2 separate regions of the Homo sapiens genome follow, and region 2 is linked to region 1. Evidence: fine-mapped expression QTL. A gene starts in region 1. The other region holds a variant in brackets. All regions are shown on one strand. Distances are between the middles of the regions. Region 1 holds the start of ROCK2 (Rho associated coiled-coil containing protein kinase 2). Region 2 overlaps ROCK2 (Rho associated coiled-coil containing protein kinase 2).

What was found. PIP is the estimated chance that this variant, and not a neighbour inherited with it, causes the effect.
Region 2: its variant is the best candidate, but not a certain one, in a credible set for the expression of ROCK2 in neutrophils (BLUEPRINT, PIP 0.72).

The regions. Positions count from the first base shown.
Region 1 is chr2:11,342,531-11,347,907 of GRCh38, forward strand. ROCK2 (Rho associated coiled-coil containing protein kinase 2) reads right to left here and starts at 2,106. Exons shown (of 33, transcript NM_004850.5): 1 at 1,466-2,106. The coding sequence starts at 1,606. LOC124907733 (a long non-coding RNA gene) reads left to right here and starts at 2,982. Exons shown (of 2, transcript XR_007086216.1): 1 at 2,982-3,159. RefSeq lists silencers at 1,421-2,150, 2,291-2,360, 2,431-2,590.
Region 2 is chr2:11,269,462-11,274,838 of GRCh38, forward strand. The region is part of intron 3 of ROCK2 (Rho associated coiled-coil containing protein kinase 2); the gene reads right to left. Among named protein-coding and RNA genes, the nearest start is that of ROCK2, 72 kb to the right of the region's middle. The variant A/G (reference allele first, on the strand shown) is at 2,317.

The sequences.
Region 1 (5,377 bases):
GATGAATACTTGAGATTTGCTGTACTATTTTTAACTAAACTTTCTGGCCTTAGGTCAAAGTTTTGCTAGCAAAATACCAAAGTGAAAATGCTGGGAGTGCAGCCCAGAGTCTCCGCTTTAGCCTAGGAAAAGCTATGCCATCCATGCAAGCAATCTTACTCCCGATTAAAGACTTTCAAAGACTGCTCCCATTAAAACATAGGAACAACACATTAACCCGAAAAACAGTAAAACATCAAACACATGTGACACAATATAGCACATCATTCATTACTTTCTGTACACTGTGCAGAAAGACACTATATAGCTAAAGTCAGTTCCTGCATTTTGACCAAACAGGACTGAGTCACTCTGCAAACGATGCCTGAAACCTCAAAGGATAACCAACCGCCTCTGACCAAAAGCCAGTCCGTCCGTCCCTGGAAAGGGAGGAGGCAGTTTTTCTCATCATACAGTAAGGTTTATTCCAGGAGGGAATAGAACTAAACATCTGCATTCCAGCACAGAATGTCTAACGGATCTAAGGACCTCCCACCCTAGTTCTAGTCTTCCAGAGTCAATTTAATACACAGAGTATCGTTTTCACCTTTCTTCCCCTCCCCAGGGTAAAAGTCCACACCCCCTTTTCCCATAAATGCATCTACACTGCACACTACTCAAATTGCGAAATACAATCATCTATCCTAACAAAAATAAGAAATAAGCCAGCATTCTACGGTGCATTTCTATTTTGTAAAACATGCTCCTTTCTTAACCAAGAGCCAATTAGCAGCCTTTACGGTGCTATTAATCTGGATTTCAAAGGTCGTTATAGGAAAGAGACGCAATGAAGAGGACAGATTTATTCCACTCCACAATTCAGACTGATTTTTTGGCTCTGGCGCAATAATCTCAGGGAATTAAATTTACAGCAATTAAAATGCACTAAATAGCAAGTATGGAATGCTCAAACGCAAGTGAAAACAGCAAAACTTTAGCTGTGTGTTCCAAGATTTCAGACTAAAAGGAGAGAGTGAGGGCGGCTCTTTGTCATGTACCCCAGTGAGTACTCGCAACAGGGACAGCATCAGGTTTCTTTCTCCCTCGCTCGCACCAAGTCCCCACGTAGCATGACACTTTCAAATCAGCTAACCTGGTGTATGAAGCATGGCCAGTCCTCCACCCACCTCCCCAGAGTGGGCAGGCGGAAGGAGAAGAGGGGTGTTTTCCTCCCAGTGCTGCAAGAAAGGAGCAGCCGGGGATGACACTGGCTCCAGCAGGAGGTAGAGGGAGGAATCAAAGGCGGGTCACTACTCTTGGAACTCGGTGACAGAATCGTTTGGTCTCCGGCCCCGGCTGCCGGAAGCAGGGCGGGGTGGGGCAAGACCTCCCCCTCCCCACGGGCGGACGGGCACGGAGGGCTGGGCGGAGAGGGGATCTGAGGTGTGAGCTGCAACGAGCAAGCTCCCAGGCCCCGGCCACCTACCAGCAAGCTCTCCACGTTGATGGGGGAGCGAGGGTCTCGGATCAGCGCCTCCAGCTTCCTCTGGCGGCTCGCGCCTGCCCCGTCCCCCGGCGCGGTCTCGGGGGCGCCGGGCATTTTCCCCGTCGGCGGGGGCCGGCTCATGCCGCCACCGCTGGACCCGCACTCAGGCTCCTCGCGCTCAGGTCCCGCAGCCTCGGGGCCTAGCACCGCCCCCGAACCACCAGCTCCGGCCGGGACTCCACCCGGGCCCACCGCCTGCCTCTAGCTCCGGCTTCGGGTCTCCAAGGCGGTCCCCCGCCTGGGGGCTGCTCCCAGGGGCCCGCCCGGCCCAGCCCGGCCCAGCCCGGCCCGGCCCTGCCGGGAGCGGCGGGGAACAGACGGCGTCCCCGCCCCTCAGTCAGATTCGCGCCGCCGGTCCGCTGGTCCTCAGCGAGTGCCCGCAGGAGTCCTCGGGCGGGAGCAGGGAAGTGGCGCCGCCACCGCCGCGGCCCGGACCGCCCCGCCCTCTGGGGCCCCGGGAGGCTGAAGCCCAGGCCTGGGCCACTACGGCCGCCGCCGGCCCGCTGCCATGGTCGCCGCCGGCCGCCTTGCAGTCCCTCAGCCAGCTCCCGGCGCACACACTCCCGCGCGGCCGCCCGTCTCCGGCCGCGCGCCGCCGCTACCCACAAGCCCCTCCGCCCGCAGCCGCCGGCGCGCGTCCCCGCCGGCCCTGCGCGCGCTCCGCCCCGCCCCGCCCCGCGCACCGCGCTTCCTCCCTTTCTTTCCCTTCCTGCGTCTGTCCCGCTCCGCTTTCTCCTCTGCGCCCCTTCCTCGCCCGCCCTCGCCTCCTCCCCCTGGCGAGGTTCTCTGAGGCGAATAGCCGGGCGCGCGGTCACGGCCGAGCTCCTGCTGGGGGAGGGGAGACGCACCCAGGCCGGGTCCTTCCGCGCGCCCCCTGCCCCTCCCGCCGGACCCCGCGGACTACCCCGCGGCCCCGAGGCGGAACCCCAGACGCCGGGCCCAGCGCACCGTGCGCTGGGGGGGAGCCCGGCCGCGCCCCCCGCCGCGGCCCCCGCTGACTCAGCGCGCAGCTATGCGGGCCTCGCCTCACCCGCGCCCAAATAATAGCGACCGAGCTCGGCGCCCGCGAGGGGCCGCAGGGCCGGGGGTTTCGAGGCGAGCCTGAGAGGGGGCCCTGGGTGTCTGGGATTCCGAATTAGCGGAGGCGGGTGGAATCCTAGTCCTGGGGCAGGAGGGCCTGGGATCCTGAAAGCGTTTCTGCCCGGCTTAGACACTAACCACTTCAAGAGAACGGGAGAGCACCGGAAAAAGGCTTTCCAGCCGCAGGCCTTCGCGGGGTCTTCTCCTTTTGGGGGGCGGAAGAGGGGTGGTTATCGGGACCGTTCCGCCGCATTCCTGCCCTCTCGGCGGCCGGTGCCATCGCTTAGATCCGCCCAGGGCGCAATCCGAAAATTATGTGCCAAGAGCTATAAAACCGTTCATAGAGCCCCTTTGACCCAGTAAACCCATTTAAGGAAGTACATTTCCAAGGAAATGATCCAAAGGGCGAAGAAGGGGGAGAACTTGCAGAAAGATGTTAACAGCAGGGCTATTCACAATGTTCGTGATGACCAAAACCTGGGAATGGGCCCAGTTGTCCAACAATTGAGTAACCCAAACAGGCGCCTTCACATTAACAGCAAGAATCCTGGCAGGTATGCAGACTGTGTCAAACATGAAATTTTGGCAAGTACATGAGAAGGTATATTAGAAATAAATGAAACAAAAAAAATCGTTTGTACACACTAAAACTATGTAAAATGAGCAGCTATAAGAACCAGAGAATACAGTACTTCTTAAATAAATGGGATTTTTTTCTGTAAAGATACTTAAGAACAAATTAAATTTCAAAAAATGGAAAAACCACTCCGAAAAGCAACAATCTGATATCCATTAAGTAATAAGAATGTTAAGAACTGTCTCCCTGGCATGTCAGAGATAAACCCGAAGATAGGGTGAAGCCCCAGCCCTGTAAAAGTTGCATTTTGATCCAAACCATTGGATTAGTTGGAGCCTCTTCTTTGGTTTTAGGTTAGTTAAAACCACCCCTAGCTGGACTCATGCAGGAAGAGGCCCCGATGATCCATCCAATGCAGCTTTTCCCTTTCAGATAGTAACACTGACTTCACATCCAGAGAGTCCTTTAAGTCTGTGTATTGAGCTACTCATTCAGACCTCCACAGAGGCCACCAGGAGAACAGAGGGAGCTAGACACTCCCACTTATGCATTGGAGCAAAATAATGAGATAATCTATGATTATGGATTATTTTTCTGATGACAAAATAATATGCAAGGCAAAAGGAGCACTCTGTCTAGCGGGGCGTGGTGGCCTGTGCCTGTAGTCCCAGCTCCCCCTGAGGCTGAGTTGGAGGCCTCCTCCATTGAGCCCAGGAGGCCAAGGCTGCAGTGAGCTGTGATCACACCGCTGCACTCCAGCCTGGGCAACAGAGTGAGATTGTCTCAAAAAAAAAAAAAAAAAAACACTGTGGTTCTCAGTTTCCAAATTAATTTTGACTGGTTGTATATTTGTATGTAGCTTGGTGGAATAACAGGAAGCCATGGTCCAAATACCGAACATGAAAACCTTATTTTAAGAGTAGTGATCAACAAGATATATATCCTGGGCATGTTCTACATATACTTATTTATATAGACCAGAAAAAGCCATGGTACAGAAGATTTTTACCCAAGACCTATCCCATTGTCTACCTGGAAGAAGAGAAAATGAATCTGTTGATATGAGTTAAACCTTTTTGCAGGATGGGGTAAGGGTAAGGAGGAGGTTAGTACAACAATTCTTGTTTTCAAAAGTAATGCACAAATGCATTCTTGTAAAAGTTCAAACGAACCAGAAATATATGGAACATAATCTAAAATTTACTGTTCTGACTATATTTCCACATACATTCTTATATCACTCAAGGCCTTTGGCCATTCTCATACATATGTATTATAGATACATGTTACCTTTTCCCCACAGACATGAAATTATACCATATCATGGTGTTTGGCAACTTGGTTTTTTCCCTTCATTACTAATATGTCCTAGAGGCGTGTCCATGTCTATAGGCAGAGATCTGCTTCATTCCGCTTACCTGCTGTCCTCTACTCCCCAGTTTGGATGTGCCACACTGTAATTATTCTCTATTCGAGAGCATAGTGGTTAAGAAACAATTGCCAAAATCCTGCCCCAAACACACACTTGCCATGTGACCCTGAGCAAGTTACCTAACTCCTCTGTGTCTCGGGGTCCTCACAATATTTGTTATAAAGTGCTTAGAAATGTGCTGGCCCTCAATCAATGCTAGATATTATTAATATTTTCTCACTGTTAAAATGATCCATTGACATCCTCGTATCCTCATATTTGAATAGTATAGATTCCTAAAAGTGGAATTGTCATAACAAAGGGTAGGCATACTGTAAATACAGATGCTGCCAACCTGTTATTTATTTATTTATTGGAGGCAGGTTTACATTCTGTCCTTCAGGCTGGAGTGCAGTGGCACGAGAGATCTTGGCTCACTGCAACCTCCACCTCTAGGGCTCCAGCAGTCCTCCCACTTCAGCCTCCTGAGTAGCTGGAACTGCAAGCACACAACACCATGCCTGGCTAATTTTTGTATTTTTTGTAGAGACAGGATTTTGCCTTGTTGCCCAGGCTGTTCTCTAAGTCCTGAGCTCAAGCGATCCACTCACCTCAGCCTCCCAAAGTGCTGGGATTACAGGGGTGAGTCACAGAGCCGGGCCTCAACCTGGCCTTTAAAAAGACGCTACCCGTTTACATTCTCAGCGTGAGTAGAAGAAACTGCCCATGTCCCTTCACCTTTCCCAGTATTCAATATTATATTTTTAATTGTTGTCAATAAAAT
Region 2 (5,377 bases), 73 kb before region 1:
GACTGCACGACTGCACTGCAGCGTGGGTGACAGAGCAAGACTCCATCTCAAAAAAAAAAAAAAAATCTTTTTTGAATGGATCGGCCATATTGGCCATCAGGTCTTTTTCAAGGACGGTTTCTTTTGATTTGTTTTTGTTTTCTTTGAATGGCCTATATACATTTTCCTGTTTCTTCGGATATAAGACATATTCTGCCGGTGTGATTGTTGTCCAGGTAACGAAAGAGATTCCTCTTGCTTGTTACTCCCCTCTCTTTTCAGAATCCTCTCTCTCCCCATCATTTGTGTTTGTGTGCTTTTTCATTAAGAGATGGGGTCTTGCTCTGTCACCCAGGCTGGAGTAAAGTGGTATGATCATGGCTCACAGGAGCCTTGACCTCCCAGGCTCAAGCAATCCTGCCACTTCAGCCTCCAGAGTAGCTGGGACTACAGGCACATGCCACCACATATGGCTAATTATTTTTAATTTTCTCGTAGAGATGGGGTCTCACTATGTTGCCCAGGCCGGTCTCAAACTCCTGGCCTCAAGCAATCCTTCCACCTTGGCCTCCCAAAGTGCCAGGATTACACGTATGAGCTACTGCACCCAGCCACCCCATCACTTTTGAAGGATAATTTCCTAAAGTGCAGAATTCTAGATTGGTAATTTTGCTTTCTTTTTTATTCGCAATTTTGCTTTCTTTTTTATTCTCAATACTTTAAAAATTTTATTCCACTCTTTTTGCTTGCATGGTTTCTGAGGAGAAGTCAGATAAAATTCTTATCTTTGTTCCTGTATAGGTAAAGTGTGGTTTGTTAGGCTTTTTCTTCTCTTGGCTTTCAGGCTTTTTCTTATGCTTGGTTTTCTATAGTTTGAAAATGATATTCCTAAATCTAACGTTTAAGACATTTATTCTGCTTTCTGTTCTTTGGGCTTTCTGGATCTGTGGTTTGGTGTCTGACATTAATTTGGGTAAAATTTTCACTATTATTTCAAATGTTTCTTCTGTTGTTTTTTTCTTCTTCTTGTATTCCCATTACACATATTTTACACCTTTTCTAGTGGTTCCATGGTTCTGTGATAATTCTGTTCTGATGTTTTCAGTCTTCCCTCTACATGCTTTCAGTTTTGGGTGTACCTATTGATATATCCTGAAACTTAGAGATATTTTATCAACCTTGTTCAGTCTAGCAATAAGTCTATCAAAGGCACTTTTCATTTCTGTTAAAAGTGTTTTTGATCTCTAGAATTTATTTTCACTTGTTCCTTAGGATTTCTATCTCTCTACTCACATCACCACTCTATTCATGCATGCTATTTTATCCATTAGCATATTAATCAAAGTTCTTTTAAATTGCTGGTTTGATAATTTTAGTGTTCCTACCATGTTTGCTTCTAATGCTTACTGTCTCTTCAAAATCTTTTTTCCTGCCTTTTAGTATGCTTTGTAATTTTTCCTTGATAGCGGGACATGATGCATTGAGTAAAAGGAACTTCTGTAAATAGGTCTTTAGTAATATAAGGTGTAGAGTGAGGCAATGTTTCCTATAGTTTTAGGTTCTACAATCTTGTGGGCAGTGTTCTATAGTCTTATGATTAGGTCTCAGCGAATCCTTATGCCTCTATACTGTGAACTTTAAATGTGCTTCTGAGTCATAGGATGGCTAGTGTGGGCTGGAGTTGTGTATTAACCTTCCCCAAGTTCCATTATGCTCTGGTTACATCTGGAGGGCAGGCCTTGTTAAGAAGCAAATGCTGTGGCATATTTCAAAATGTTCCTTTCCCTTTAATCTTCTTGGAAGCATGAGGAGATTTTTCTCCAATATTCACTGTGAGACTCTGGTTGAGCTCTTGGATATAAAATCTGTAAAGGTGTGGGGGCTCACCTATAACTGGGTCCCCTGCAAGTTTTTAATTGTCTGACTTGACCACCACTTAGCCCCCAGCAATTTGTCAGTTACAGCTCAGGTTTTCCTACCTCAGCACTGGTTCTCGTGGCAATTTCTGCTTATGAATCCTGGATCTTATAGCCATGGCTATTTGTTTGTCTCTCTAGTTTGGGGTCAGTGGTTTGTTTGGTGTCCTCACCTGTCTTTTGGATCCCGGAAGCACTGTTGGTTTTTCAGTCTCTTCAGCATTTTATTTGTTGTTAGGATGGATGGTGATTTCCAAGCTCCTTACTTGTGCAACCAGAAACCTGTTGCCCTGTTTTAAAGGGCATATTGATAGGATATACTCAAGGGGTATGGTGCTCTGGGAACTTGAAACAATGCCATCTGAGGTTGAAAGGACTGAAAGGTTCGGGGCTGGGCGCGGTGGCTCACGCCTGTAATCCC[A/G]GCACTTTGGGAGGCAGAGGCGGGCGGATCACAAGGTCAGGAGATCGAGACCATCCTGGCTAACACGGTGAAACCCCGTCTCTACTAAAAAAATTAGCCGGGCGTGGTGGCGGGCACCTGTAGTCCCAGCTACTCGGGAGGCTGAGGCAGGAGAATGGCGTGAACCCGACAGGCGGAGCTTGCAGTGAGCAGAGATCACACCACTGCACTCCAGCCTGGGAGACAGAACGAGACTCCATCTCAAAAAAAAAAAAAAAAAGTAGAATTGAAAGGTTCATTTGGAGCAGATCTGAGGAAAGGACTGCCTTGGAAAGTGACAAAGCTTTGTTATTGTTTGACTGGGTTTTTTGGTTGTTGTGTTTTCCCTAAACTGACAGGAAAGTTAAGACATTAACAGATAAACAAAAATTAAGGGAGCTTGTTACCAGTAGACCTGACCTGCAAGAAATGGTCAATGAAGTCCTACAGGGTGAAATGAAAACACACTGTTTAAACAGTAAGTTGAAGTCATGTGAAGAAATAAAAATCTCAATAAAGGTAAATACACACACAATTATAAAGTCCAGTATTACTGTAATAATGGATTATAATTGCACTTTTTGCTTTCTACATGATTTAAAAGGCCAATACATATTTTTAAATTATTAATCTAAAAGCTAGTATTATTGAAACTTTGTTTCATAAACCCATTTTGTTCTATATAAAAAATTGATGCATTTAAAGTGATTAGTTTATGGTTTGGGGCACATAATGAATAAGGAGGTAATTCTGTGACAGCAACTGGAAAGGGTGAGGGCAGAGCTGTTAAAGAAGCAGAGCTGGCCGGCTGCAGTGGTTCACGCCTATAACCCTAGCACTTTGGGAGGCCGAGGCAGGTGGATCATTTGAGGTCAGGAGTTTGAGACCAGCCTTGCCAACATGGTCTCCACTAAAAATACCAAAATTAGCCAGGCACGGTGATGGGCACCTGTAACCCCAGCTACTCGGGAGGCTGAGGCAGGGAAATCACTTGAACACGGGAGACAGAGGTTACAGTGAGCCAAGATGGTGCCACTGCACTCCAGCCTGGGCGACAGAGCAAGACTCTGTCTCAAAAAAAAAAAAAAAAAAGAGCAAGAGTTACTGTATATTCTTGAAGCTAAGCTGGTATAAATTGACATCTGAATTTTTATAAGTTTAGGATGTTAAATGTAATGCCTATGGTATCTACAAAGAAAACAGAATACATACTAAACAAATTGAGAAAGAATGTAAACATACCACTATAAGAAAATGAACTGAACACAAAAGCCAAGAGAAATGCAGGAAATAAGGGTCAAAAAAAAAAAAAAAAAAAAAGCTTTACAACATATAGAAAACAAATAGCAAAATAACAGAAATAAATTCTTCTTCCCAGTAATGACATTCAATGTAAGTGAGTTAAACTCTCCAATCAAAAGACAGAGATTGGCAGAATGAATTAAAAAAAAGATCCATCTATGCATTGTCCATAAGATAATCACTTTAGATCCAAAGACACAAACTGATTGATAGTGGAAGGATGGAAATAGTAACCAAAAGAGAGCAGAAGTGGCTATACTAATATCAGACCAAATACACTTTAAATCAATAAAGGTTACAGGAAACAAAAAAAAACATTATATCTTAATAAAAGTTTCAACACAGTAAGAAGACACAGCAATTACAAACATTTATAGACCTAGTAACAGACCATCAAAATATATGATGCAAAAACAGAACTGAGGGAGAAATAGACAGCTCTATAATAATAGTTGGAGACTTTCATTCTCTATTATCACTTAATAGAATGGAGTATGGAAATACAGTAAAGAAACAGAGGACTTAACACAATAAACTAACTAGATCTTAGGGATATATACAGAACACATAATAACATATATAATATTCTCAAGTGCACATGGGACATTTTCCAAAACAGATCATATGTCAGGCCACAGACTAAGTCTCAAAAGATTTAAAAAGATAGACATACAAAGTATATTTTCCAACCACAATGGGATGAAGTCAGAAATCGATAAAAGACAGGAGGCTGAGGCAGGAGAATGGCGTGAACCCGGGAGGTGGAGCTGGCAGTGAGCCGAGGTTGCGCCACTGCACTCTAACCTGGGTGACAGAGCAAGACTCCATCTCAAAAAAAAAAAAAAAGACTTCGATAAAATAACTACAATGAGAAAATCCACAAAAACATGGAAATTAAACAACACACAAATAACCAACGAATCATATAAGAAATCAGAAGGGAAATTAGGAAATACTCCAGAGACAAATGAAAACAACACAACAAAAAACTTAACGGAATACAGCAAAAGTAGTATATGGGAGAAATTTATAGCTATAAATGCTTACATTAAAAAAACGAGAATGATCTGAAATTAAAAACGAAACTTTACAATTTAAGAAACTAGAAAGAGAAAAACAAACTAAACCCAAAGCCATCAGAAGCAAGGAAATAATAAAGATTAGAGCAAAGATAAAACAGAGAACACAACAACAACAACAACAACAACAAAATCAATGAAACCAAAAGTTGGTTCTTTGAAACAATCCAAAAGAGTCACAAACCTCTGGCTAGATGGACTAATTAAAAAAACAGAGAATGCTCAAATTATTAAAATCAGAAATAAAAGTGGGGACATTACTACCCACTTTACGAAAATTAAAATGATTAAGAGAGTACTCTGACCAATTCTATGTTAACAAATAGAATAACTTAGATAAAACAGACAAATTCCTAGAAACACAAAATCTACCAAGACTAACTCACACAAAAAACCAGAAAATATAAATAGACCTACAATTAGTAAAGAGATTGATTCAGTAACCAAAACTTTCCTGACATAGAAAAGCTCTTTACCTAATGGCTTCACTGGTGAGTTCTACCAAATATTTCAATAACATCAATCATTCTCATACTTCTCTAGAAAACTGAAGAGGAAGGAACACCTCCTAACTCATTCTATGAGGCCAGCATTACCCTGATACCAAGGACAGATAAAGACATCACGGTAGTCCCCTCTTATCCTCAGGAAATACATTCCAA